2 separate regions of the Homo sapiens genome follow, and region 1 is linked to region 2. Evidence: fine-mapped expression QTL. A gene starts in region 2. The other region holds a variant in brackets. All regions are shown on one strand. Distances are between the middles of the regions. Region 1 overlaps LINC02719 (long intergenic non-protein coding RNA 2719). Region 2 holds the start of AASDHPPT (aminoadipate-semialdehyde dehydrogenase-phosphopantetheinyl transferase).

Region 1 (15,644 bases), 32 kb before region 2:
ATTTATTGAGGCTCTATTCAAAGCAAAAGGAATACAGCCATGAACAAAACGGACCACAATCTCTGCCCCCATGGAGTTAATATTTAATAGGGGTAGAAGGACAGATAAATACACAAGATACTTAGGTAAAATGACTAATATATCGGATCATGATGATAACTCTGAGAAAAAAAAATAAATGGAATGGGGGATAGAAATTAGAAAAAGAAGGTGCAATTGTAGTTAGGGTGGCCAGGGAAGGCTTTATTGACATGCTAATATTTTCACGCGGGCCAGAAGGAGGTAAGGATTCAATTCACTGGCAAACCAGGGGAAGATTTTCCAAGATTTTTGTAAAGTTTCACAAGTGGAAACTTGCATGGTGTGTGTGAATAACAGCAAGAAGGCCAGTACAGTTGGGGCAGAGTAAGGGAGGGAAGGATTGATAGAAGATAATGTCAAAGAGGTAGCAGGGAGCCAGATAATGTATGCTTTCTGTATTAGTCAAGGTTCTTTAGAGGGACAAGACTAATAGGATGGATGTATATATGAATGGGAGTTTATTAAGGAGTATTGACTCACATGATCACAAGGTTAAGTCCCACAACAGGCCATCTCCAAGCTGAGGAGCAAGGAAGCCAGTCCCAAAACCTCAAAAGTAGGGAAGCTGTCAGTGCAACCTTCAGTCTGTGGCTGAAGGCCCGAGAGTCCCTGGCAAACCACTGGTACAGGTCCAAGGGTCCAAAAGCTGAAGGACTTGGAGTCTGATGTTCGAGGGCAGGAAGCATCCAGCACTGGAGAAAGATGGAGACCAGAAGACTCAGCCATTCTAGTCCCTCCACGTTCCTCTGCCTGCTTTCGTCCTAGCCGCTACTAGCAGCTGACTAGATGGTGCCCACCCAGATTGAGGATCTGCCTCTCCCAGTTCACTGACTCAACTGTTAATCTCCTTTGGCAACACCCTCATAGACATACCCAGGAACTATACCTTGCATCCTTCCATCCAATCAAGTTGACTATAATAACCATTACAAGTCCTCCCCTTGTCAATTTGAACCCATACACGTGTCCTGAAATCATACATCATCTTCAAATAAAGACAATAATAAGGTCATAATTACACCTAATATAATACAGTTATTCTTTGTATAACCGAAAGTGCACCAATCCCCAACCCAAATACTATTACATAAAGTTAACATCACTTAAATGCTGATATAAAGTCAATAAAGCTTATGTCACATGATAAAGGAAAAAGAAAGGAAATAAGATGGAGATATTTTTAGTTCAAGTGTATACATGAACAAACATGTTCTTAACAAAAGGAGGAGGAAATATTCATGACAATTATGGTTCTCGTTTCTGCAACTGGTCATGTGGTTGTAGCTGGTATTGATGCCTAACCTCCTTCTACTACCCATTCTGTATTCCCTTTGCCTTTCGCAAGCACCTCAGCAGGTCATGGCTTTTTACCTGGTGGAGTGAACCAAACCTTCATTCCTGAAGGGTCTGGGGCCATTTGCAGTCCTGCCTGGATTGGGTTGTTGTTGTTTCCCATTGACCTTAATCACAGGTCATGGTAACACTAAGAGGTACCGTAAGGGATCTCCTGTATTCCACGCATACTCTTCTTCACCTCCATTGTGGAGTAGAAGACTGATATCATTTTGATAGTCTGGGTCAATCACCTCAGCCAACACTGTAACTCCCTTCTTAGCCTGTTGACAGAGGTAGAAGGAGCCCAAAGTGGCCAGGTGGCAATTTTAACTTCTAGCTTAATGGAATCAGTGTTGTGTCTCCTGGTGGCAGCGTTCCTCCCAATGCAACTAAGACCTCTAGGCCAGTAGAATGTGATGTTGTGGGAACAGGAAGCAAAAATTTTGCTAGTGGGTCACTAGAAGTGATGGTGAGCGGTGCCACTTCTGCTTCCACCCCTTGATTCCTGGACCTGTGAATCCTGGCTATAGGAGAAACAGTACTGTATATTGGATGCTGATTCAGAGCATACAAAGCCTTCTGGAGAACTTTGTCCCAGCCCTGCAAAATATTGTCACCTAGTTGGCGTTGTAATTTCAAAAGGCCATTCCACCATTCTATCATCCTGCTTCAGAATGATGGGGAATGGAGTAAGACCAGTGAATTCCATGAGCATGAGCTCACTGCTGTACTTCTTTAGCCATAAAGTGAGTGCCTTGGTCAGAGGCAATGCCATGTGAAACACCATGATGGTGGATAAGGCATTCCATGAGTCCATGAATGGTAGTCTTGGCAGAAGCATAGAATGCAGGATAGGCAAAGCTATATCTAGAGCAACTGTCTATTCCAGTTAGGACAAACCACTGTCCTTTCCATGATAGAAGAGGTCCAATATAATCATTTCATGTTGTTAACTTGCCACCAAGTAGCTGGCTGATCACCCTGAGGAATGGTGACACACTGAGGACTCAGCGTTGTTCTCTGCTGCTGGCAAATTGGGCACTCAGCAGTGGTTGTAGCCAGGTCAGCTTTGGTGAGTGGAAGTTCATGTTGCTGAGCCCATGTGTAACGTCCATCCCTGCCACCAAGGCCACTTTGTTCATGGGCCTATTGGGTGTTGACAGGGGTGGATGGGGAAAGAGGCTGAGTAGTGTCCATAGAATGAGTCATCCTATCCACTTTATTAAAATCCCCCTTTGCTGAGGTCACCCTTTGGTGAGCACCCACAGGAGACACAAATATCTTCACAGTTTTTGACCACTTAGAGAGGCCCATCCACATACCTCTTCCCCAAATTTCTTTGTCACCAATTTTCCAATCATGCTTCTTCCAAGTCCCTGACCATCCAGCCAAACCATTGGCTACAGTCCTTGAATCAGCATATCATCACACATCTGGCCGTTTCTCCTTCCATGCAAAGTGCACAATGAGGTTCGCTGCTCGAAGTTCTGCCCAATGGGAAGATTTCCCTTCACTGCTGTCCTTCAGGGATGTCCTAGAAAGGGGCTGTAGTGCTGCAGCTGTCCACTTCAGGTGGTGCCCGCATATCATGCAGAACCATCTGCGAACCAGGCCCTAGTCTTCTCTTCATCTGTCACCTCAGCATTGGGAACTCCCCATGAGGCCACTGGTGTAGGCTAGTGGGGAGAAGGCAGGGTGGCAGGATTGGGGACCATGGGCATTTGAGCCACTTCCTCATGTAACTTACTTGTGCCCTCAGGACCTGCTCAAGCCCAATCACGTACATGCCACTTTCATTTGATGATGGAATGCTACCATGCACATCCCGCTTTATGACCAGATGTGTCAGAAAGCACTCAGTTCATGATAGGCAGTTCAGGTTGCATGGTGACTTGATGACCCATAGTCAAACGTTCAGTTTCTACCAAAGCCCAGTAACAGGCCAAGAGCTGTCTCTCAAAAGGAGAGTAGTTACCTGCAGAAGATGATGGCAGGGCCTTGCTCCAGAATCCTAGAGGCCTCTGCTATGATTCACCTATGGGGGCCTGCCAAAGGCTACAAACAGCATCCCTATCTGCCACTGGCACCTCAAGCACCATTGGCTCTGCTATGTCATATAGCCCAAGTGGCAGAGCAGCTTGCACAGCAGCCTGGACCTGTTGCAGAGACTTCTCCTGTTCTAGACCCCACTCAAAACTGGCAGCTTTTTGGGTCATTCGATAAATGGGCTGGAGTAACACACCCAAATGAGGAATGTGTTGCCTCCAAAATCCAATTAGGCACACTAGGCTCATGGTAATGACCTTGGGTTGGGGCCTTTTTTTATTTTTCTGATGAGCAAGGGCATGATCTTGGTTTTTAATATAACAGAGTTGGAAGACCACGGAGCTTTTTAAGTGGAGGAATCAGATAATCAGACCTAAGTTAAAAAAGAAAAAAAAAGCATTCTGGTTTATGTATTAAAAAATAAAATAGTGAGTTAGAGAGGCAAAAATAAGGAAACAACTGACAAGGCTGTCGCAACATTCTAGATGAAGAATGATGGTGGCTTGGACCACAGTGGTAATTGTCGAGGTGATGAAAAGTGGTCTGATTTAGATATATTTCAAATAAAAGGCCAACAGTACTTGCTGACAGATTGGATGTGAGGGTGGGGTATGCAAGAAAGGGAAGAGTAAAGGAAACTCCAAGATTTTTAACTCAAGCATCTGAAAAAATAGAATTTATTTTTACCATGGAGACATAACTGTGGAATTAACAGATTTTAAGGAAATGAAGATTTCATTTTGGGACATAATGTATTTGAGATACTTTTTAGACGTCCAAGTGAAGATGTCAAATAGAGAGATATATGAGCCTAGAGTTCAGGGGAGAGCTCTGGACCAGAGACATAGATTTGGTGATAATCAATGTATAAATGTATTTAAAGAGAATGAGTGTAGAAAGAGTAGAGATCTGAGGACTGGATCTAGGACCTGCCAACATTTAGGGTTTGGGGAGATAAATGGAATTAGCAAAGGAGACTGAGAAAAACTGACCAATGAGAAAAAAAAAAACTTGAAGTAGTATCCTAAAAGTGAAGATGCTGTATCAAAAAAGAAAGCATTTACAGTGAGTTAAATGCTGCTGATAGGTCAAGTAAGATGAGGACTGAGAACTGCCCAAAGGACTTAGCAACATGGAAGTCTTTGGTGACTTTGAAAAAAGAAGTATCAGTGGTCAATGAGGCCTGATTTGAGTTGGTTTTAGAATTATTATAATAGATAAGAAGAACTGTAGATGATGAAGTCATCTCCAGTTTTTGCAGAAAAGGGAAACTGAAATATGGTACAGTATCCAAGAGGGAAGGATGGAGTGAAAGAGGATTCTTTCTTTCTTTTCTTTCTTTTCTCTTTTTCTTTCTTTCTTTCCTTTCTTTCTTTCTCTCTCTCTTTCTTTCTCTCTCTTTCTTTCTCTCTCTTTCTCTTTCTTCTTCTATCTCTCTCTTTTTCTTTCTCTCTCTCTTTCTCTCTTTCTTCTCTCTTTCTCTTTTTAAAAAAGCATCAGTTTGGTGAAAAAAGGAGAGGATTTCTTTTTAAGATGAGAAAAGTAACAACATGTTTATGTTTCTGGGAATGATGCCATAATTGACGGGAAATTGATGTGCCAAAGAGGTGAGATTTTCCAAAGTACCATCCGGAGTAGAGGGAATGAATCTAGTGTCCAAATCAAGGGGCTGGGCTTAGACAGGAGTGTGGACATTCCTCTCTAGTGGCAGGAGGGAAGGCACACTGCCTGGGCACAGATGTAGCAAGGTGGGTGGATGTGATGGAGGAAGCTTGGGGAAATTCTCTTCCGAGACATCTGCTTTTTCAGTGGAATAGGAAGCAAGGTAATCAGCAAAAAGCAAAGATGGAGAATGTATTAGAAATTGAAGAAGAGAAGGGAAAGTATGGAAAAGTTATCTGGGTGAGTGGACCAGGAATGATTGTGGGGCAGCACTACAAACCATTTAATATTGGGTCATGAATTGAAATGAGAGCAATCAGCTGGGAAGGACAAGTACAGAAAAGGCAGAGGGTAAATGGATTTAGGGGTCTGAAAGTCAATGAGGAGCAAGTATACCTAAGGAGTGGAATAGTGAAATAAAGTTGAGAAGTGAAGATTTGGAGGAGGTTTGTAACTGGAGTGTTGTAAGCCATATTAAGGACTTTATACTTGAACCTACAGGATAAGAGAGAGCTAAAACCCTGTTTTTCAGGGAAGACAATGGCACAATTTAATTTGGTTTGCAAGAAAGACAGTTCTGGAAAGTATGAACAGGACAGACTGAAAATTGTATTGGTGGATATACAGACCATGTGTTGGTACCTATAATGTCTTCTTAGAATCAGGACATATAGTTCACCCTGTAAAACGAAACTGGCAAATAAAAAGTTTCCTAAAGAAATGTTGAAAAATCTGAACCCATCATGAGTTCCCATTAAGCTTATCTAACTGGCTTTCTTAATTTTCCTAGGTACCTCACATAAATGAACTCTTGTGCTCTGAAAGAAAAGTTTGTTCTTGCCCTGCCTCAAGGTCAGCAGAAAGAAAATATTCTCTTACAACATGGCATGTAAGAAATAGAGAAAAGAGGAAAGAAAATCTATTTGAAATAAAGCAACCATTTCTCATGATGAAAAATCTGCACAATTACTTTGGACGCAATATATTGCACCTGTTTCTGGCTGATGCCTCCTAAATTAGGCTTTTAAGTGATCAAATACTGCACGTTTCACACATACCCTAAAAGTAGTATGAAATACAAGTGACTGGGATAAAACATAAGTAAACTAGGAATGAAAATGTCATTTTTTTCTATAAAATTGAAATAATTGCTTTGGGAACAGTTTTCTATTTGATAGCTACATGAGTATATCTATCTTGACCTGTCAACTTTTTTTGAGAAATACCATTTTTAATGATAATTCTAAATACAAATGTGGTTAAAGTCCAGGGAGAAGTAAGTATTTTTTCCCTTAGTAAATTAATCATGCCCAAAGTTGAAAGGATGTCAGTTTTGCAAAAGGCAATTTTGACAAATGATGTATTTGATATTTGAACACTGATTTCTGCAAATACAAATGCAGGAATGCTGTGTCCTTAACGCAAAATTACATGCCATTATTTTTTACAAATCTGGAAATTCTTTTCCACATGAATATTGTCCTCAAGGGATTGTATTTATTCATCTACACTTTTCTTTCTCAAATGACTACCTTTATTAAGATTCCAGGATAAGGCTTTTCTAGCCTATCTCAGCTTTAAAATGGCTTTAATTCATATGTTTCAAGATGCACAGCTTTATCTTGAATATTCAAATAAAAGAAAAATACCTCAAATTAAATTTTTTTTTTCTGAGAGTGTCTTGATATATTGTCCAGGTTGGCCTCTAACTCCTGGGCTCAAGGGATTCTCCTGCCTCAGTCTCCAGAGTAGCTGGGACTACAGATGTGCACCACTGAGCTTGGCTCATATTAATTCTTTGATTGTTAAATAAAATAGGTCTCCAACAATGATATAAACCGAATTTCATCAGATTATGCTTACCTCTTCCGTGTTACTAAGTGATTAATGTTTTCAGTCAACTTCATGACCAACTGCACTCATTTATATATGAGGGGTTCCTAGGAAAACAACAGGAATTTATACTTGAAAATTCAGAGTATTTCTTTGTTTCAATTATCATTCACTGCAAATGTTTCACTGTCTACAGGTCTATTTTAAATCCCTAAATTAATATCAGATTTCACAGGTATTGATTATTATCTAAGTCTTTAGCTCCTTCACAGTGTTCATATGCTCTGAAAAGATATTTATTTGGATAAAATGCTCTAACCTTTTATTTTTAGGAGCTTCATATACACAGAAATAAAAAACCAGTAACATTTTCCTTATACTTAAGAGTCAATGAAAGCACCATCTCTGCCCTTCCACCTCTTGACACCAATTTAAAAACTACCATTAAATGGCCACTAGATCATCATCCACAAACTCTGAGCAACAGTTTGTTTGGAAATGCAAAATAAAAACCAGAGTTCAACAGTTATAAGTAGTTGCACTATGACCTATAGTATTTCTATTTGTATATCAAAATTATGGACAGCTATTTTTTTATCAACTTAATGATTTCACAACTGGTATCCACTGGAATTAAGTTTTTCATTGCCAACATGATATATATTTTAAAGCAAAGCTCTTTCTAAAATATAAAATCAATAAAAAAATTTCTATTTTAAACAATCATCTACACCCAAAGAGACAATGATATTCACTTAATTATAAGTAACTGGCTTTCAAAGCCTACTACGGTTTTCACCAATAAAGCCCTGGCATTTTTATCAAGAACATATGTTACACTGTTTTAACAAAAGCAATGAAATAAACAAACAAACAAAAAACAAACAAACAAAAAAAACAAAAGCAATGGCTTTTTCCTTTACATTTTAGTATAAAATTATAGCCGTTGCTTCAACATTATTAATTCATTGTGTAATTCTGACACTTTCATAAGGAAACAACTTTTAATATTTTTTAATTGTTAAATTGTGCAGAATAAATTTAAATGATCATCAAGGACTATACAAATTGCAGTAGTAAAAAATATAAATATAACATCCAAATTCAATTTATGGGGATAATTATTCAGAATCTAAACTTAATCTCATTTCCTGAAACAGGAGACTTCCTTCAAGGGCAGCTTCACTCACAACATATAAGGCAGAAGTATGATTTTCACCATTCATCTTGATGACAATGTGGTATAGATATAAAAGAATGTGCTTTTGAGTCTGTGGAAACTAAATTAAAATCAGAATGACATCATTTATGAGTTAATATGACCTCTGAAAAATTGTCTAATTTCCTTGGGCCTCAGATTTTACATTCTTGAAATACAAGTAACGGTGCTTACTTTGTAGTGTGGCTATGATGTTTAAATTAAGAATATTAGTCAAGTGTTAACAGAATGCCTGGAACTTAAGAGTCCAAAGGTGGAAGGAAGACAGAGATTTTATACAAATAAATATAGAAATATATACAGTAATGTAGCAGATTATGACATTTTGGTCAATGATAGACCACATATACAATAGTGGCCTCATAAGATTATAATGGGGCTGAAACATTCCTATTGCCTAGTGGCATAATAGCTGTTGTAACTTCACAGCACCATGTATTATTCGCGTGTTTGTGGTGATGCTGGTGTAAACAAACCTGCAACACTGCCGGTTGTATGAAAGTCTAGTGCATACAAGTATGTTCAGTACAGAATACTTGATAATGATAACAAATGACTGTTACTGGGTTGTGTATTTACTATAGTATACATTTAATTGTTATTTTAAAATTTACTCCTTCTACTTCTGTGAAACAGCCTCAGGCAAGCCCTTTAGGAGATATTCCAGAAGGCATTGTTATCAGGAGATGACAGATCCTTGTATGTTATTGCCCCTGAAGACCTTCCAGTGGGACAAGATGTGGAGGTGGAAGACAGTGACATTGATGGTCCTGAATCTGTACAGGCCCAAACTAATGTGTGTGCATTGCGACTTAGATTTTAACAAAAAGTAAAAAAAAGTCCCAATTTCAAAAATAGAGAAAAGCTTATAGAATAAGGATACAAACAGAAAATATTTTTGTAGAGCATACGATGTGTGTGTTTTAAGTTTTGTTACAAAAGAGTAAAAATGTTTAAAACATAAAAGTCTATAAAGTTTAAAAGCTATACTAAGCTAAAGTTAATTTATTATTGAAGAAGGAAAAATATTTCTTTTTTTTTTTTTTT[G/TG]AGACGGAGTCTCGCTCTGTCGCCCAGGCTGGAGCGCAGTGGCGGGACCTCGGCTCACTGCAAGCTCCGCCTCCCGGGTTCACGCCATTCTCCTGCCTCAGCCTCCCAAGTAGCTGGGACTACAGGTGCCCGCCACCACGCCCGGCTATTTTTTGTATTTTTTAGTAGAGACGGGGTTTCACCGTTTTAGCCGGGATGGTCTCGATCTCCTGACCTCGTGATCCGCCCGCCTCGGCCTCCCAAAGTGCTGGGATTACAGGCGTGAGCCACCGCGCCCGGCCGGAAAAATATTTCTTATAGTGTTAGTGTAGCCGAGGTGTATAGTGTTGATAACATCTGCAGTAGTGGATAGTAAGGTCCTAGGACTCCACATTGACTCACTACTCTCTCACTGATGCACCCAGGGCAACTTCCAGCCCTGTAATCTCTATTCATGGTAATTGCCCTATACAATGTGTACCATTAAAAATGGCATACCACTTTTAGTCTTTTATACCATATTTTAACTGTACTTTTTCTACGTATAGATATGTTTATATACATAAATACTTACCATTATGTTATAATTGCCTACAGTATTCAGTACAGTAATATGTTGTTCAGATTTGTAGCCTGGGAGCAATAGCCTCTACCATATAGCCTAGGTGTGTAGTAGGCTGTACCATCTAGGTTCGTGTAAGTATATTCTATAATGTTCACACAATAATGAAATCACCTAATGGACACATTTCTCATAATATAGCCCTATCATTAAGCAACGCATGACTGTACTTGAAAATTGGAATATTGGCAAAGAAAGAAAGAGATTAGCATTATGTGAGCAAATAGAGAGAATGGGGAAATAAATAATCCATCTGAGAAAGTGAATAATTATGTCATAGGGGTAGAGACATGTTGTGGGATGAATTTTGTCACCCCAAATTCATATGTTGAAGTCCTAATCCCTAGTATCTCAGAATGTGCCAGTATTTGGACATAAGATAATTAAGGGGTAATTAGGGTTAAATGATGTCATTAGGGTGGGCACTAATCTAATATGACTGGTGTCCTCGTAAGAAGAGATGAAGACACAGATCAACATAAAGACCATGCAGAAACACAGGGAGAGGGGGAGAGGAGGGTCATCTACAAACCAAGGAGAGAGGTCTCAGAAGAAACCGACCCTACTGACACCCTAATCTCAGACTTCTAGCCCTTCGGGACTGTGAGGAGATAAATTTCTGTTTAAGCCACATAGTCTGTGGTACTTTGTTATGGTAGCCCTAGACAACTAAAACAAAACCACAGCATTCATTCATTCAACAAATAGTTATTGAGCCTTTATATGAGCTAGGCACTGTTATAAGACCATGGGGAAATAGGAGTAAACAAAACTAGTTTAAATCCCTGTCTTCCTTGGATCTTATAGTCTGGCAAGGACTGGAGCTGAGACATACAATAATGAAGACACTAAAATGTATGGTGCGTTTGATTGTGGTTAAGCCCCACAGGGAAAATAAAGCAGAGAACCTAGATCTGGAGTGTTGGGGATGGGAAACAGAATGATGTACAATTTTAGAGTGTCCGGGGGTAGTCACTAAGGAGATGACTGTCAAATAAAGATCTGATGGAAGTAAGGGGTGAACAATGCGAGTATCTGGGAGAAGAACATTCCAGACAAAGGGACAGCAAATGTAGAGACCTGAAGTAGGACTGTGCCTAGTATATTCAAGGAACAGGGAGGATTCCAGTGTGGTTGCAGTAAAGTGAAGATAGGGAGAATAGTATTAGTTGAGTGCAAAAGTAATTGTGGTTTTTGCGCTGTTGATATTGGAATATATTCTTAAATAAATGTAGTTATGTTATATATCATTTTAACGGGCATTTCTCGCTTTTTTTTTTGCTAATGACTTATTACTTGCTGTTTATTTATGTTTATTTTAGACTGTGGAAACGATGTTAGACAAAGAGCAAATTCGAGCGTTTTCTTATTCGAGTTCAAAATGGGTTGTAAAGCAGCAAAGACAACTCGCAATATCAGCAACACATATGGCCCAGGAACTGCTAATGAATGTACAGTGCAGTGGTGGTTCAAGAAGTTTTGCAAAGGAGACGAGAGCCTTGAAGATGAGGAGTGTACCGGCCAGCCATTGGAAGTTGACAACGACCAATTGAGAGCAACCATCGAACCCTCTTAAAACTCCACAAGAAGTTGCCGAAGAACTCAACGTCGACCATGCTACAGTCATTCAGCATTTGAAGAAAATTGGAAAGGTGAAAAATCTCAGTAAGTGGGTGCCTCATGAGCTAACTGAAAATAAAAAGTTTTTAAAAGTGTCTTCTCTTATTTTACGCAAAAACAACAAACCGTTTCTTGATCGGATTGTGATGTGAGACGAAAAGTGGATTTTATATGTTAACTGGTGATGACCAGCTCAGTGGCTGGATCAACAAGAAGCTCCAAAACACTTCCCAAAGCCAAACTTGCAAAACAAAAAGGTCCCGGTCACTGTTTGGTGGTCTCTTGCCCATCTGATCCACTACAACTTTCTGAATCCTGCAGAACCATTACATCTGAGAATTATGCCCAGCAAATCGATGAGATGCATCGAAAACTGCAACTCCTGCAGCCAGCATCGGCCCACAGAAAAGGCTCAATTCTTCTTCACAACAACGCCTGACTGCCCATCGCATAACCAATGCTTCAAAAGTTGAACAAATTGGGCTATGAAATTTTGCCTCATCTGCCATATTCACCTGAGCTCTTGCCAACCAACCACCACTTTTTGCAGGGAAAACGCTCCCAGAACCAGCAGGATGCAGAAAATTCTTTCCAAGAGTTTGTCAAATCCTGAAGCATGGATTTTTATGCTACAGGAATAAACTTATTTCTCACTGGCAAAACTGTGTTGATTGTAATGGTTCCTACTTTGATTAATAAAGATGTGTCTGAGCTTAGTTATAATGATTTAAAATTCACGGTCTGAAACTGCAATTGCTTTTGCACCGACCTAATAGGAAGTGAGAATAAGAGTAGGAAATGAGAATGAGAAAGAGAATAGTACAGTAGGGAGCAACAGAGGCCAGATCATGTAGGCTACTATGCTTGTTAGAAAGACTCTGGCTTTTACTGTGAGGGAGATGGCTGCAATGCGGAGAATATACTGAAGGGGGAAAGACTGGAAGTAGGGAGTCCATTGGGGAGACCGTGGCAATCACCCAGGTGAGGCAGTGGTGGCCTGGACCAGGTGAGGAGCGGCGGAGATGGTGAAGAGTGGTCCAACTCTGGGTGTGGTTTGAAGGTTGAACTGACAGTTTTGCTCAAGTATTGTGTGTTGAAAGAAGTACTCAAGTACTGTGTATAAGAAAGAAGCATATGTGTGGAGTAGGAGAGAAAAGAGGATGATTCCATGGATTTGAGTCCAAGTGGCTGGAAGGATGAAGATCCCATATACTGAGATGGAGGAAGACAGAAGGACAGAGGGACAAATGATCCCAGGGATGGTAGAGGTTTGGGTAAGAAGGGGTGGGGAATGCCTAGTAAGAACTTACTTTCAAACGTATTATGTGCAAGCTACCAGTGGATATCAAGAGGACATGTGTAGGCATCTGGAAATCTGAGACTGGAGGCAGGTAAGAGGTCTTGAGAGGTGTGGACAGACATTAAATATTTGGGAGGCATCAGCATATGGATAGTACTTGAAGCTTGAGAATGAATGAGATCACCAAGGGAATAAGTATTAATAGAAAAGTGATGAGCTATGAGGACCAAGATTTGGAATGTTCAATGATTTGAGAGGATGAGGAAGAACTAACATAAAGGTAAGCAGTGGTCAGAGGTAAAATTACCTGTTACATTTGTAGTGCCTCCATTGGCCTGACAGAATTTTCACAGATACATGGCTCCCCTCCAAACAGGCAGCCTTAGGAGCTACCAGGTAAGTGGATTATAGCAACAGATCAGACATAGTTATTTTGCCTTCAAAAATTCATAGAAGCTCATCAAGCATTATGCTGCTCTATTTATTGTGTTTGGTGCAAAACGATGCAACCCCTTTCATTTTAGAGGGAATATTCCTTTATTCCCTATGTCAAGCCTCTGAACTTTTACAGCATTTATCTCCTATCTTCTGGCATGCATGTGTCTTACCACCAAGGTCACCAGAAAACAGAATGCTATCAGTGTAATGGATCAAGGCCCCTCTTGACTACATTGTGATAGAGAACCCGAGAGCTACAAAACAGTGACTGCTGTCTCTGTCATATGAAGATATATTGCTTTTGAGTTTCTTTGCTGATAGGAATTAAAAAGAAAGCATTTGCTAAGTGAACAATTTCATTTGAGGTCCCATGGGTTGTGTTGACTTGTTCCAGTAACAACACCCAAAATTGACATCACTATCTGATTAAATTTCAATAATCTACAGTCATTTCCCAAGACTAATATTTTGCCTTAGCCAAACAGGTAAGCTCAATGGGGATGTGGGCAAGTAACACTGGATGAAGAGATGACTGCACTAAGAGATGGTGGGTGGCATAGATTGATGATGTGAGGAAGGAAGGAGAATTGTCTGACAGTGTACCTAAGGAACAAGAACAGCATCCATGCCACTCCCAGGCCAGGGAAAATTAGGAAGTTTGGAGTGAAAACATCCACATCACCCCTCTACATCTTTCAAGTGTCTGATTGTGGCACTAATCTCTGCAGTTCCTTTAGGGATGCAGTATTACTTGGCTTACTGCCTTAGCTGGAGGCAGGGATGAGCGGTTCTAGGGGCTTCCACTTGGTCCTTGCTACCACAATTTTCACCTCGCAGGGAAAGGAACCAATGTGGGGCACCTGCAAATTAGTAAGTACAGTTGGCCCTCTCTATCTGTAGGGGTCGCAACTGTGGATTCAGCCAACAACTGTTCAAAATTTAAAACACAATACAACAATAAAAATAATATACATTAGGAAAACAATAGAGTACAACAATAATTACGTATTGTAAGTGATCTAGAGAGGATTTCAAGTAGCTGAGAGGATGGGCTTAGGATGTGCAAATACTATGCCATTATATAAGGGTCTTAAGCACCCATGGATTTTGTATCTGAGGGGGGTCCTGCAACCAACCCCCACAGATACTGAGAGACAACCGTGTATTTATTCCACTATTCAAGTGAAACTGGGGAAATAACCACATTATGAGATGGACTCAGGCCAAGACTGCATTTTCCCTGATGTCTATAGCTTCCACTTTGACAAGGCAACACAGACGCAGTTTGGGCTCACTATTATCAATTCAGAACCAGTATCTAACAGGCCCCAGAAGTTCTTCGTATTTCTCTTTCCCCGGTGAAAAATCACCATGGTAAATGGACACAGGTGTCCCTAGAAAAGATTGGGAGAAGATTTCTCTTGTATACTTGTGACTGCATTGCAGGATTCTTTGTCAAAAGGATCTAGCTACCCCCTTCATTAAGAGATCCTAAGTCTATAAAATGGCTAAGTTCTTTAAAAAATTAAAGCAGCAGTGGATCATCCTCACAGTGATTTCAGTCAAGTGTCTGTCCACCAGACCTAGAAATTTTCTGTTAATGTGTCAAACAGATCCTTGCAGGCTGCCCATTTAATCTACTCCTAGAGACCCTGTGATCAATGAACCATCACCAGAAACCCCTGTGGCACAAGACCCTTTGATTATTACTCTCAAGTACCATCTCATGATCTCAACAATTCTGGAATCGCATTATTCCCATTGAAAACAAGTAACCTAAATTCACTGCAGCATCTTTGATCTACAGAGATGATACCACAAGGCTTTTCAAGGTACTCCTTTACTAATGGATTTAAAAAAACATCCTTGGTGAAGTGATGGTCTTCTAAGCCCATCCCTCAGAGGATGAATGAGCAGATTAGCAAAGAACAGATCCGCATTCCTGTCTTCCTAAGACTCTGGACTCTTTCAGTCAGGAAAGTTCTAACATTTCAACACAGTTGACTGTAGGCCACCACTGAGTTTAGGTTTTAGTTAACCAATGTGACAGACTTATCACCATTCCCAGATTCTCAGGCCAACACATTAACTCACATTTTCTGTGAGTATGCCTGCCTTATCTGATGTAACCCCTTTTGGTCAAATACCCTTAGAATCCACTCCTATTCTGTCCTCCAAATCCCTACAATGCAAAGTGGCAATATTCTGCAACTCTTCTGAATAGGCCCTTCCTCCGGACCTGATCTTATACTTCTCTGTTTAGGGTATTTGTTATTTTCCAAAAAGTAAAGATGGATAGTGGATGTAAATCCTGAGGTTAACTGATACCTGCTTATGAGAGAACCATCTCAGGTGAATTCATTGATACACTGTTTTTCCTTTGCAGGGCAAGTGGAGATGCGTACTGGGCTATTCTTGTGTTGTTATAAAGAAACACTTGAGACTGCGCAATTTATAAAGAA
Region 2 (15,644 bases):
ACCACTGATTTTTAGAAGACTTGTTTTCTGCTTTCACAAGTCCACAGATGAGAGGAATTTTGCCCCAAGAAGGATCATACTCCAGTTTCACACATAGCTGATTTAGATGATTGAGATGAGATCTGCCACTTTTTGGGTTGATGATATTAACACTTACATGAGATTTAGAGTTAATGCTGGAATGGGCTGAGAATTGCTAATGCTGGGATGGGGTGAATTTACTTTGTATGTTAGATGGATATAAATTTTGCAGGGGGCCAGAGAATGGACTCTACTGGGTTGAAGGGTGTCTCCTGAAATTCATGTCCACCCAGAACCTTAGAATGTGACCTTATTTGGAAATAGAGTCTTTATAGATGTAATCAAGTTAAGATCAGGTCATACCTAATTAAAGTGAGCCCTGAATCCAATGCCTGGTTTCCTTACAAGGAGAGACAGACACACAGAGAGGAGACAGAAAAGGTCATTTGAAGGTGAAGGCAAAAATTGGAGTGATGCAACTGCAAGCCAAGGACTGCTAGGAATGAGCAGAAACTAGGAAGAAGCAAGGAAGGATTCTTTCTTAGAACCTTCAGAGAGACCATGGCCCTGCTGACACCTTAACTTCCAGCCTTCCAGAACTTACAGAAGAGCTTTCGGTCACTTTAAGACACCATGTTTGAGGTACTTTGTTAAGCAGCCTGAAGAAACTAATATACACATGGATACAATTTAAATTATACATAAGCACACACATTCGCGTACCCTTCGGAGTTTTAATTCTATGTCCCTGCAGTCAAATGTTCAAATGCTGGTCCATCACTTCTTAGCTAGAGATTGAGGATCCCTAATCTGAAAACCTGAAATCCAAAATGCTATAAAACTCAAAGCTTTTTGAGCATCAAAATTATACTCAAAGGAAAAACTCAGTGGAGCACTGTGGATTTCCCACTAGGGATACTCAACCTGTGGGTTATTTATTTAACATTTACTTAACATCTCTATGGCTGTTTCTCAAACTGTAAAATTGGGACAAAGAATTGGGCAGATTAAGAATAAACATGTAAAATGCCTGGAACTATCAAGTACTTAATAAATATTAGCTCTGAGGTTGTTGTCAAAGTCATGGTTAAATGTGTATCTTCTTTTGTCAACTGTTTTTATAAAGTCCTTCCTATATTCATCAAGTAAGGCTTAAGTGGTTTTCCCATCGATATTTAGAGGGGCATTTCATATCTTAACAACATTAACCTTTGTCTGTCAAATTTGCCACCAATATATTCTCTGGTTTGTGAAAGATGATTTAATATGAAATCATATCTGTTGACTTAGTGGTTTATTATTTTAAGCTTCAAAAGCCATCTTTCAGAAGTTTGCTCAAATATACAATTACATTGTGTTCTAGTAAGTGTTAATAAAACTGGCCAGGCGCAGTGGCTCACGCCTGTAATCCCAGCACTTTGGGAGGCCGAGGCGGGTAGATCACGAGGTCAGGAGATCAAGACCACCCTGGCTAACACAGTGAAACCCCATCTCTACTAAAAATACAAAAAATTAGCCGGGCGTCGTGGCAAGTGCCTGTAGTCCCAGCTACTCTGGAGGCTGAGGCAGGAGAATGGTGTGAACCCAGGAGGCGGAGCTTGCAGTAAGCCAAGATCACGCCACTGCACTCCAGCCTGGGCAACAGAGCAAGACTGTCTCAAAAAAAAACAAACAAACCAAAAGTGTTAATAAAACTTTAATTTTGTTATAGTGTGAGGCAATGACTTTCTGATAATATCACTCATAAAAAATGGTAAATGGGCTACAATTTTTCTTTTTGTTAGTTCTGTAAATTACATCCAATACAGAATTTCCCAAACATTAATATGTCTATCAGCTGGGAATATTGTTTAAATATGGAAACCCGGCCAGGTGTGATGGCTCACGCCTGTAATCCCAGCACTTTGGGAGGCCAAGGCGGGCAGTTCACCTGAGGTCAGAAGTTCGAGACCAGCCTGGCCAACGTGGTGAAACTCCGTCTCTACTAAAAATACCAGGTGGCGGGTGCCTGGAATCCCAGCTACACTGGAGGCTGAGGCAAAAGAATTGCTTGAACCCAGGAGGCAGAGCTTGCAGTGAGCCAAGCACCAATGTACTCCAGCCTGGGCGACAGAGCCAGACTCTGTCTCAAAAAAAAAAAAGATTCTGCTATATATATTTTTCTATGATGTGATATTGGCTGGGCACAGTGGCTCACACCTCACGCCTGTAATCCTAGCACTTGGGAGGCTGAGGCAGGCAGATCACTTGAGCCCAGGAGTTCAATACTAGCCTAGGCAACATGGAGAAACCCTGTCTCTATTATAATATTAAATATATATATATTCTAAGTCCCTTCAGGTTCATATAGACCTAACTAATTCTTTTATTACAGCTAATAATTATCTGCAGAATGCATCCACCATTAATTTATTTAACCAATTTCTATTAGCAGCATTCAGGTTTTGTTGTTATTCATAAATATTTTGGATAGAGTACTATAAACAAGATCGCTAAATCAAAGACTATGTGTATTTTCAATTTTAACATTATTTTCCAAAAAGCCTGTAGCAATTTCTAGTGTTTCCATCTATATGATTGTTCTTTTCCGACATTTTCACAAGCTCTAAGTGTTTTTTTTCCAATTTTCTGCAAATCTGATGGGCACCTCACTGTTACTTTAATTTGCATTACTCTAATCATTAAGGTAATAGCTTACTGACTGCTTGAATTTGTTCTTCTGTAACGTGCCTATTAATATTTTCTAATCACTTCATAGAAGCTCTTTATATATTATGGATATTGACACCTTACCAAATTTGTTATAAGAATTTTCCTTATTCTATTATTTATCTTTTGTATTTGGTTATATTTTTGGAATATAATTTTTTTAAATTTAAATATCCATTCTTTGATAAATTCTGAACTCTGTCTCGTTTGAAAAGAATTCATAAAAAGATTTACTGCAACTCGACATCATAGTCAACTATATTTTGTCCTAAAATTTTAAACTTTTTTATTTTTAAATTTCTAATTCCTCCAAATTGGTGTATATAGTATGTGTTACATCCACATGACTAACCAATTCTACCAGCACCATTTAATAAATAATCTTTTATCCACTGAATTGAAATATGTATATATCCTGGGCTCTAAGATTAACTCTTCCAGTTGTCTATTCTTTCGCTAGTACCATACTCTTTTTAGTTTACAATGACTAACACAAGTTTTTGAAACTGGTAAGGCAAGACCCTTACTATATTTTTCATATTCCTAGTCATTAGTTCTTCCATAACAACTTTAAATGTATGTAACCCAGTTTCACAGAATTTTTCATATTTTGGTATCTGCAAATTCTTTTAATAGGAATCAATAAAATCTCATACTGAGAGGCCATATACTGTAGAGAGCAGTGGTTAAATATATGAAGTTTTACTTTTTAGCTAAGTCAACTTGGACAAATGTCTTAACCTTTTATATAAAATAACAGTAGTACTTACGCACTAGTCTTACAAAGATGAAATAATACCTATTAGGCATCTAATATAGTGTCACACACTTGTAGGAATTGCTCAATAAATACTAGTTACACAATCAAATCCTACTGACAAAGGAAAAAGACCGACCTGTAACTGGGAAGGAGGAAAACTCCTTGAGGGTGGAGACTTGGTTTTCCAGTAAGGAATTCAGAGTACAAAGTGATGTGTGAGTTTCTAAAACTACTTACAGGTTTTAAATCCCAAGTGCATTTAAAAAAAAAAGTCCAGCAAAGTTTATTTTAAAAATGTAAAGACGAACATGTAAAACCATAGGGGGAAAATTCTGGTCCTTTCCCAAATTTCAATCATAATTTTTATGTATTTTGTCTATTTTATTTTGCCTTACTTTGTAAATATGGTCACAAAACTAAACAATTCAAAAGTTACCCTTTATGCTTATCACTTCAAACACTTTTAATGGTAGAAAAAATTAGAAAACAAAGGGAAAACCAACCAAAATTTTCCAAAAGAGGGTAATAAATTAAGATGAAGACCAGGAAAACACCATTCTTCCTAAGAGTAAGAATGTACCGTCCTGGCATATGGTAGGCTATATACTAGGTATGTTCTCTCCTGCACGTCCACAGCAACAGTTGGGAGAACAGGTAGAGGGAGGGAAATGAGCTGCACTCAGCAGAAATGGTTAATGCACCATGAAAGAAAAAGACTCTCTGAGTTCCTAGTGGATTCTTACCTATAGGACAAGACAGAGTAATGGAATTGACTCTTTCAATGCACTAATGATAACCCCCAAAAGCCAACTCTGTCTTTAGAGTTGGCAATCTAGTAACAATGCCTAGTACAAAACAGAGTACTTTCCTTGCTGCTCTCCTAAGTTTTGCCTAGCATCATTTAGCAAGACTCTTAGGAAAAATCCCTTGCTCAATCTCCTCACTTACTACAATAAGTAGAGCAATTCAAAGAATCTCCAATGAAGCAAATCAGTGTCTACTTCCCATCTTCATTAAGAAATCATGCTGTGTCCATTGATGCTTCAGGAATCAGTAGCATGGTAACAACACTAGTGACAATTGGAAAATCTCTCTTCCTTTCTGTGTTACTGGACATAGCAACAGCTTTTTCACAACAAAATAAAGAAAAGGAAAAGGCCTAGACATTGTGATTAGTCAAGTAAGATCAACTAAAAAAAACTGGTGGGGGGAGGTCTAATAACACAATTAACAGGAAAACTAAATCTTAAATTTTTGCTCAATTGTCTTTCCATCATTTATTTTTCTTTTTTATTATTATTATTATTATACTTTAAGTTCTAGGGTACATGTGCACAATGTGCAGGTTAGTTACATATGTATACATGTGCCATGCTGGTGTGCTGCACCCATTAACTCATCATTTAGCATTAGGTGTATCTCCTAATGCTATCCCTCCCCCCTTCCCCCACCCACAACAGTCCCCAGAGTGTGATGTTCCCCTTCCTGTGTCCATGTGTTCTCATTGTTCAATTCCCATCTATGAGTGAGAACACCATCATTTATTAAAAGCTTCAGTTATTAATTACTTGTTTATCTAGCATTGACCATAGCCAACACTGCCCATCAAGTTAACTGGTAACAAAATCTGTTTCTCAGAAGTATCATTTCCAAGCAGATACCAACCCACTGGGCCAATTATTACCAGGTAGTTGTGCTGACTGCATTCTAAAAAACAATGGCCTTTCCATTTCTGATTTTAGAAAAAGTTCCTGTAATGACAGCAGAAAGCTACAAGAATATATGGGCTAATTCCCATGCTAAGAATCCTCTATAGCAGCAATTTTTTTAGAGTAAGCCACCTATGTCCCTGTTGAATACCAGATCCTTTCCCAAGAAAAATGCACATGTGCATATCATACAAAATGTAGCATACAGTTTCAGGAGGTAAACAAAATTCCTGGAATCTTATCCAGGGAATCAGATCAACAATCTGTTATAAGGTTTCCAAAATCACTAGTAGGGCCTTGTTCTGAACAAACCTGAGAATAGAGTTGTACTGGAAAGGTTTATTAGCAGGTAAGAGAAAGAGTAGCTAGTAGGAAAATGCAAGGTAAGGACAATAAAAGCAAAAGGGAGAAGAGATTCACAACCACACTGAAGCCTATACTCTAACAGCACAGTGTTTATTCATTCATTTGACAAATATTTTACTATTACATGCTAGGCAAGGTACTAAGAGATGTGATAGTGATCAAACTCTGATGTGGCTAACATGGTTCTTGCTCTCACACAGCTTTTAAGTATCAGGAAAAGATAATCAATCATCCTGATGAATAATCAACTGAGATACATTACTGGAATAAGGAAAATATATTTTATGAGAACCTACAACAAAAGAACCTAGCTTAGATTGAAGGCTCACAAAGCTTCCCTAAAGTAAGGTTAAGGTGAAATCTAACAAGTAAATAGGAGTTCTCTATGCAGAAATGGGAGTGAGAGATAAAATTAATACAAGCCTTACAGACTGAGAGAGCCACATATTCAAACCACATATGGTGCAGGCAGTATGGAGATTAGATAGTTTTACTATGAAATTAGGAAGATGTGGGTTCTTTTATTAATAGCTTTCTTCTTAGCCTGTTACTTATTTTCTTTAAAAATAGCAGTATATGCATCATAGGGTAGTTGAGAGAATTAAATCACAGAATATGTCTAAAGCACTATGTAAAATGCCATGACACGTGGTTAAGTGTTCATTAAATGTTAGTGATGATGACAAATATACAGCAGTTAAGAGAACCTGTATTTAGTATGTATTAAATTGCCTGGGTACATTCAACTTCACCACAAATGTTAGTGGTCCTTAAAGCCACCACTAACAAATTTCTAAGGCAATATATAAGCAACTTAAATATTTTAATAATGCTTGCTCCTCATTTTTACTTACATAAATGGGCTAAAAAGAGATGTATTTAGATGCAGAACAAAGAGTCGCCCGTTGGTATCCACTGGGGACTGGTTCCAGGACCCTCCTCAGATACCAAAATCTGCGCATGCGGCCCTATGGAACCTGCATATATGAAGTCAGCCCTCCACATCCTCAGGTTTCATATCCTGCAAATACTGAATCTTGATACACGTTTGATTGTGGATGCAGAATCTATGGGGACAGAGGGCCAACTACTGAAAAAAATTCACATGAGTAGACCCATGCAGTTCAAACTTGTGTTGTTCATGTGTCAACTGTATACGTTATCTCTACATAAGGACTACAATGTACTTTACTATTCAGATTCTTTTTTAAAAAACAAACAATTAACTGAAAAATTGTGGTTAATGTTTAAGTGAAATAAATTGAAGTATAATTCAAAAAAAATTTCACTTAATATTTCACTTTACCTCTAGGCAAAGTTATGGATCCCCAGTAACGGATAATCTATTATTTATGTGTAAGTCTGTAAATATTCATGGAAATATACCCTTTTCAGATTTATGCTCTCCATTACCTTTGTGTACTAAGCACATTTTCCCTAAACTGAAATATCTCTAATACATCTCCTGGCCTGAGATTACTCAATAGCAATAGAACTGAGGCATCGAGACACTTAACTGCCATACTAGAAAAATGCAACGTTACCTGGAAAACTAGTCTTCATTATATCAATTCCAACTTGCAGCTCAGGTTCAGCAGCAAGCACTGCATAGTCTCCTTGATGAGAGATGTTAAAGTTGAAATTCGGGTAAGGATTCGATGAGTCCTTTGCAAGAACTGGTTTTCCTTTTGCAGTTCTTTGCAAACGAATATGATTCCAAGGGATATTCAATTTCTCTGCAACTAATTTCCTTATCATCAGACGACCAGCCTGTTAAGTACATAAAACATTTGGTATGTACTGATGTCTACTAAAGATACAAGCACACTGTATGCAATAGTACTTTTTTTTGGTTTCTAAAATTTTCATTTTTAAAACTTTTCAAAATACTTAAGTATTAAACACACGTTAATTAAGACTTAAGCAATGCTTAAGTAGATAAAAAGTTAAAGCCCGCCTTAGCAATTCCCTCTCCTTTGCTAGTGACCAAAGTTAACAGCTGGCATCCTGTCAGTCTTTTCTGTATTTAAATATATGTGCATTTACATGTTTTTGCTAACTCTACATATAAACACAAACATGAGATTATACTTATGCAGTATTCTACCACATATAAGCTTTAAATTTATAAGTATTGGGAAGTATTTTATGTCTGTACACACACGTCTGGTCCATGCAGTTTTAACTGTAGCATATTTCATAATATTATTTCCCCTTTATTGGACATTTTAGGCTGGCTCTAGACTTGCTGTCAAAAACAACTCTGCAGTGAGCAACCCTACTGTACCTACATCTGTGCATATGTATTTCTAGATCCCATATATTGATCACCCAGCTTCAACAATTAGCAAGGCATGACCTATCTTGTTCTGCTCTCTCCCACCTCCAATTATTATTTTTTAAATAATTACTAAAAACACACACACAAAAAAACAAGAATATAAGATGACAAAGTATATATTTTTAAAAATATCTTTCAGGTTTTTTTCTTCTTCAATTCTAACACTGACTTTTAAAAACTGCAGGCTTTTAAATGTAGCTTATTTTACAATTCCTTACAAATGAGTAAAAAATTTTCACCAATGTGCCTTAAAAATTATCAACTAGTCTACATTTCAAACAGAAAGTGTTTCAATATGGGACATTTTTAAGAAAGGACTGTCTTTTAAATGATGGTAATTCACGGTTGTTTCAAATTGCACCATATTGTACAGATTACTTGTTTTGAAATCCAGTTTTCCATTTGTTGCTTCAAAATACATAGCTAAAATAAATAAATCTACGTAAAATACTGTTTCCCATGGCATCTAGTGAGGAAGGTATCCTCTCTGGCTTCAATTTCATTGGCTTCAATCCCGGGGAGCGCAGGGCTACAAACTAAATCATACTGTCAATAATTTCTAGGGCCTACCACGTGCAGGGAGTCCTTGGAGAATGATGGGATATTTAACAGGCAGAATAAGCATAGGCTATGAACGCACACAAACAAAAAAAAATAACATTTAAAGATAAAGACATAAAAACATTCATTACAGAAAAACCCAATTTTGTCGGCCTTCCCTACACTTATTTCATGGTTTAGGAGGGTCTCCATTTGAAATAACAAGGGGAAAGAGATAATGTTTACAGCCATCGCGGCCTCCAAGGCGGTTACAAAGGCCGTGGAAACCAGGCCGTGCGTCGCCCACAACTCCGCAGCGCCGGCTGCTGTCGCCCGGGCCGGCCACAGGCTCCACAGCGAGAGGGTCGCGGCCAGCGCGGGAGTGTCGGGTCTCCACAGCCCGGCCCGCCTCCCCCAAGATCTGCTTCCTAGGCTCTAAATACCAAAAAAGACCTGTAGTACCATGGCTGCCTTAGCGTCCCGGGCAAAGACGAACTGGCCAATGCGCTCCTTCTCCTCGGGCTGAATCGATCGCACTGCCAGCAGCCATTCGGCTCGGCTCGGCAGCCAAGTGCCGCAGGAAAAGGCCCAGCGCACGCCCTCCATGGATGGCACCAAGCAGAACCGTTTGGCAGGGAAAACCATACACTGAAAGCGGACCTCGCCGCTATCTCGGGCCTGATGGCGCGGACGCAAACGTGGCCCCACCCCCTTCTTCCCGGCGTCCGTGCGCAGGGGACGGGCCGTCGCTACGCAGACTGGCCCACCGACAGCCCTCCCAGCCCGCCCCCGACTCAGCCACCTCCTCTCGGAGAAAGCAGCTGGGGGCGGAGACGGAGATCAGCCCTGCGCTTTGCGGCATTGTATGACGTCAAGTAGGCGAGGCTTCGGAGGCGAGCGAAGGGCGGGACCAAGGCCAAGAGCCCGACAGTTACGCCACTCACACTTGCGGAAGAGTTAACGGGACAGCGGTGCAGGCCAATCGCAACCAGTCCTCTGGAGGCAGGGAGACTGGGGTGGAGACTTCGGAGACTGCAGTTGCAGGTGGGTGAGCTCCGGGGTCTGAGGGAGGAGTGGGATGGTAGCCCTTATTCTCAGGGTCTGAGTTGGCCCCTGTGACCCACAGAGAAGAGAATGTCCTTGGCTTCAGCTGCTTCGTGTACGGGGCACGAGAGGTTTCCATCTCTAGGAGGGGGTCTGCAGTGGTGCCCCCTGCAGTTGTGCAACGCATCAGCCCTGAGTTCCTTCTTTCCCTGCCCCCATCCGCATCAGCCTAAGACCCACCCTCACACAGTACGCTCCCGACCCTTAGCAGCAGCCTACCTGAAACCCTCCCTCCGAAGGCCGAGCAGAGGCACTATCCCCAGTGCGCAACACTGACCCCGCCTGGATCCGAGGCTGCCAGCGAGCAGCTGAGCTAATGCTGGCTGTTTATTTGGGGCGATGAAGCGACCCAGGTGCTGTTTTGCTATTGCCAAGCCTGGGCTAGAGCACTAGCGAGAAAACAGGATTCCATTGTTGAGGTATCAGTGTTTCCATCATGACAGAGGTCCTTGCTCTAACAGCAACAGAAACAAGTAAATAACTTTGCTCAGTTATTTTCTCAGACTTTGCGAAGGGTCATATTGATGTATGTCTGTTTCCTTAGTTGTTCCGTGTAGGCTGTTGTTGACTCTCGTATGAAAGCCCACGCGATCCAAGTGCCCTGCAGGTTTTGGTCCAGGGAAAAGTTGGTCTCTGCAGATGACTGTAAATGACTACCTGGAGGTCGATTAAAGTGCGGTACTGCGGGATTCAGCCGATTTCCTTCTTCCTCTGACTGCCCGGAAATATCAGCCAAAGGCCAGCGGTAGTAATTAACACAATTACCTGCCTATGATTTCTGTCCTATTTAAGATGGGTTCTATTATGTTTTTATCTATACTTGTCTTCATTAACTTTTCGTGATATCATAAGCCCCCCGAATCCCTCGAAAGTAGATGGGATTCTGAGCACACACACACACAAATTCAGATCCCCAAAGGACAGTAAAACGAATTATTGGCTTAATATATCATCTTAGCTAACCAAAAGCCTGTGTCAGCTGCCATGTTGAAAATCTGCTTACCAGCTGCAGGGAGCTTACAATCTGGTAAGGCAAATAAATCATACGCATAAAAAGTACAATAAGAGACAGTGTAAAGATACGTAAGTGATACTAATACCCATATCAGCAATGATCATAACTCACTTCTCCATTTTTAACTAAGAATCATATAACCTTTCCTTCTTGTCGTTTTAAACTGATTTTTATAACTTTGATACATTACGTTTCTGTTTCCAAAACACTTCTGTGTACGTTATTGCACATGTTCTGTGCACTAGTTATTACTGATGGAGACAATGAGCTCAGAAAGAGAATTTGTTTAAATTCAGGAATTCATATCCCATTATTTTACCATCGAGCAAGATCTCTGTGTATTAGATCTATGGAGCCTAATACACAGACAGTAACGTAGGGATTATTTGTACTTGGTCTAGAATCTAGAATATTCTCCCCTTCTCCCATTATCACATTCCTTGTTTCCTCTGTATCATTCAGGCCCAAATCTCATACCAAACAGAATGTCTCTGTTCACCTAGTCTAAAATAGCTTACTCTCTCCACTTCCAAACCTCAGCCCCAAACCTATCACCCTGTGAACATATTTTATAGGTTTGTTTAATCCCCTTCCCTGTGTGGTTTTACAAATTCTCCAGAGCTTAGCTTAAACCTTCTCTTAGGGCCTACTTCAGAGTACCTTTTTCCAAAACAGTATTGTTTATGTAATTCATTTGGCAGTTATTCTAGTATTGCCTTATGACGTCTCTCCTATTGTCCTGAATTATTTTCATGTGTGTTATCTTGCAAAATAGAATGTACAGTACTTGAGAGGGAATGTCATGTATACCTTTTACAAATAGTATACATGAGTAAATGTTATTAATGACTCCACAATAGATTTATTACTGTCAAGGGTAACACTGCTTTTTATATTCTATCTGCCTTTACTTCCCTCACTTTTATTAAGGAAATATAAATATGCAGTTCATAACTTGCTTAACTATATTAAATGAACCCAACAATTTTATTAAAATATTTTTTACTGCATTGGTCAGGGGAAGAAGAGGACTAAAGTAATAGGGGCTCACTCAGTCTGTAATGATCATCTTGCTTGGTGCTGATCTGTGGCTTCTTAGCAGGATTCTGAGGGACTCGTATTCTATTTCCAGCTCTACCACCAATTGTCTGTGTGACATTGGTCACACAGGATCCTATGTGTGACATAACCTCTTCCATGTATTAATTTCAATGGAAAGGCATCGGATGAGATCATCTCTAAGTCTAGGTGTTTTTTAGATATACTCACTAACTTTTTATTGGGTCACAAACTTTATTCTACCTCAAACCCTTCTTTTTTCCCCCAAGACTTATTTGAATAGCTCCATAATTCTACCAGTTTCTCAAGGAAGAAACCATGATGCTGCTCTTCTTTGACTCCCTATATCCAATCCATCTCCAAGTGTTTTTGGCTCTATTTCTAAAATACAGAAAAATCCATTTATTTCTCTTTATTCCCACTGTTAACAATCTAGTATAACCCACCATCATTTTTCATCTGAAATACTAATCAGTTTTCTAGCCTGCCTGAGAAAGGGGAGCACTCTCTTCCAATGTCTTCTATGCCATAAGCACAACTTGCTTTCAGAGCTAAATCTAGAAATCTATGCCCTTAATTCTTATGTTACATTGCCCTCTAATTAGACTGAGAAGGAGAGGCCAGCAAGGTAGGAAACCTGAAGAATGTTGTGGCACAGAAACTAAAAGACGAGTGTTTCAAGGACTAGTTAACAGTGTGAATTATCCTAAGAGGTGAAATAAGATGAGGAGAGAGAAGTGAGAATTTACCTTCAAGATGGTAGTGTGGTGACATTGACAAGGGCAGTTTTAATGGAGTAAAAGAAAGGAATTTTATTGTAGTGGGTTGAGACGATAACTGGAGGTGATGCTACCACAGAGTGTCCTTTAAAGAAGTTTTTCTGGATTTAGGAAGTAGAAAAATGGAATGGTAGCTAGAGGGAATAAAAGGTCAAAGGACAGATTTTTGTTTGATGTTTGTTTAAAGATGGAAGATACTAGAATTTGCATGCTAATGGAAAATGTCTAGTAGGGTGGGAGAAGCTCTTAATGTATGAGAAGGAAGGGGTATGTGTGTGGGGGGGGGTGTTCGGCATTCTAAAGTAGACTCCAGGGTAGAGGACCTTGTCTATGTTGTTTTTCGCTGTATTTCTAGTATCTAGAATAGTACCTGCCACAATATTTGTTACTCCATAAACTGTCTAATATTTGTTGAATAAATGAATGACTTGGACCCTACTTCTCTTACCTCCTTTCAATTCATTCTTGACATATTAGCTAGAAAAATATTTTTTAAAAAAATGATGTCATGTCACTGTCCAATTTAAAGTAATCAGTCGTTCCTATTTCACTTAGAATAAAATCCCAGCTCCTGTGACCCATAGCATCCTGACTGAGGTAGCAACTGCCTTCTGCAGCCCTATCTCCTAACCCTCTTCCTTTCATTAACTACTCCAGCCACACTGGCCGCCTTTAATTTCCTAAAACTGAAGGACTCCTTTACCCCTGTAGGGCTTTATATGTGATTTCTTCCACCAACCCCTTACCTTCTTATCATTCAATTCTCAAATGACACTTCAGAAAGGCTTTCCCTAATATTGTAGTGGCTGAAAGCAAGGGCTCTTGAGCCAAACTGAGTTCACATACCAACTCCCTGCTTACTTGCTATATGATCTTAGCCAAATTACTTAAATTATCAAAGCCTGTTTTCTCTGTTTGTAAAATGAAGATAAGTATCTCCTTTATCCAGTTTTTTTTTTGAAGATTAAAAGAGTATGTGTAAAACATATAGCATGGGACCAGGCATGGTGGCTCATGCCTGTAGTCAACAGCACTTTGGGAGGCTGAGGCATGAGGATCACTTAAGGCCAGGAGTTTGAGACCAACTTGGGTAACATAGTGAGATCCCATCTCTAAATTAAAAAAAAAAAAAAAAAAAAAGCTGAGTGTGCTAATGCACGCCTGTAAATCCCAGCTACTCAGGAGGATGAAGTGGGAGGACTGCTTGAGCCCAGGAGGTTGAGGCTTCAGTGAGCTGTGATCTTGCCACTGCAGTCCATCCTGGGTGACACAGCAAGACCCTGTCTCAAAAAAACAAACAAAAAATATAGTACAAAGCATGGCACATTATAAGCACTGTATAAGTGTTCCCTGTTACCCCTTTTGTTATTGTCTGAAATTGAATGCCCCATTGTTCATTTTTATTTCCACTTCCTACTTGTGTCTTCACAGTACTTATAAAAATGTATAATTATTTATTTGCCTACTTTATTTATTATGTCATTTTCACCAGATACTGGACAAGGAAAAAGCAGGGACCATGTCTGTCTTTTATTCTCTTTATATCTCTAGTGCCTAATTCGGTGCTTGTCATATACTTAGCATCTATAATAAATATTTACTAAAATAGGCCAGAAATCATGCTGTATATTGAAACATCAGTGACGAAACTAAGATCACTGTAGGACCCAGTGAAATCAAAGCCCAGATCAGGCAGAGCACAGCTTTAGTTTAACGTTCTGCTTTTATCAAGTGGCATATGATTTTTGTCATTACTTTTTATCAAAGGCTTGGTTCTTAGGCTTGACTCTTCTACCTTTATTCATTCAATTCTTTAAATCAAATTTTAATGGAAGGCTTTTAAAAAAAAGAATAACAATCATTTTAAAAATTGAGTCAGTGTTTTGGGCAGGAAGGTGTTTCATTGAAGCTGGGGTGTAATCTTAAAAGTACACTATTTTATATACTACTAAGAAAAAAAATGCCAACTATGGCACAACTCTTTATCACTAAGAATTTTTTCTACTCATGCAAAGAGCCCCCTTTTAAAAAAATCATATAACACCCTTGCACCTACATACAAAGAACAATATGAGCAAAATTCATTGGCTGAGGCATTCCTAAAACTTCTTAACATTCAAAGTGTCTTTTCATTGATTTTCAACTCAGAGTCTCTGTGTCCATGTTTTATTTTCATAATATCATTCTCTGTTTAGAGCATTAGTGATATATCATTTCTTAAATCAATGTCCATTATTATCTCCAAGGTTTTCTTCCAACACACTGATATCCATTCTTCAAATTTAATACACATGTAATGACAAATATGTCATGACTACTACCCAACCAGAGTGATTTTAAGATGCCTGTCAGTTTCAGATAAGTGTGAAAAAATTTGTGTCTTAAAATCAATGAAATAGCATAATTGAATTTGAAGAATATTTGAAGAAAAATAATTGCCTTATAAATCTTTTGCCAAGAATTGAGAATTGTTTAACTGTTAATAATGTTATTGATTTTAATCATTAATATTTACATATAATTTGACGATATTAACTTAATATTCATTGTATCATTTAAGTCTCACAACAGTCCAGTGTCATAGGTGTGTCCACTTTGCAGATGAGGAAGCCAAAGCCTCAGAGAGCCTAAGTAGGAGTCACTAATAAGTGATGAACCATTTAGGACTATTTCTCTAGTTGCAAATGTCATATTCTTTGTTATTTGCAAAATACACTTATACAAGTAGGATTTACTCAAATGAAATTTAAGAAATAGAAATTTTCAGCTCCTTAGATTTGTCATTCTGTATAGAATATACATGGCAGACTTTTTTTAAAAACAGTGTTATAAAAGTGAATAGCTATCTGTGATTCTTTATATTATTTTAGGATAGTTGAAATTTTCAAGTAAAACTTGTTTTTGTTACTATTTATAGAAATAAAAATAACTTTGTGTTTACATCATGTGGTCCACTTATTCATGAACCATGAGGCTCAATAATTGACTTAATCCAACACAAGATCTAAATTACATACATGATTTTCATGACAGTAAAGTTAATTAAAAAGTGTTTGTGGTTAGAGTTTTAAAAATTGATATTCTCAGGACCTATGCCACTATGCAGAAATACAGTTTTTATTCTTTTGGAAGTATCTCCTTTAGTCACCTTTTTACTGTTTTATTTCCGACTTATTTTACAATACAGAGGAATGATTTTATACCAATTAAATAATTATGTTTTATTTGCATTTTCTATGTT

What was found.
Region 1: its variant is fine-mapped to the expression of AASDHPPT in whole blood (INTERVAL, PIP above 0.99).

The regions. Positions count from the first base shown.
Region 1 is chr11:106,102,894-106,118,537 of GRCh38, reverse strand. It overlaps LINC02719 (long intergenic non-protein coding RNA 2719), which reads left to right. Exons shown (of 3, transcript NR_135099.1): 3 at 5,915-6,079. Among named protein-coding and RNA genes, the nearest start is that of LINC02719, 21 kb to the left of the region's middle. The variant G/TG (reference allele first, on the strand shown) is at 9,224.
Region 2 is chr11:106,071,158-106,086,801 of GRCh38, reverse strand. It overlaps AASDHPPT (aminoadipate-semialdehyde dehydrogenase-phosphopantetheinyl transferase), which reads right to left and starts at 9,140. Exons shown (of 6, transcript NM_015423.3): 1 at 8,909-9,140; 2 at 7,110-7,335. The coding sequence starts at 9,091. KBTBD3 (kelch repeat and BTB domain containing 3) reads left to right here and starts at 9,455. Exons shown (of 4, transcript NM_198439.3): 1 at 9,455-9,490; 2 at 10,095-10,295. RefSeq lists enhancers at 8,873-9,112, 9,423-9,532, 9,543-9,662.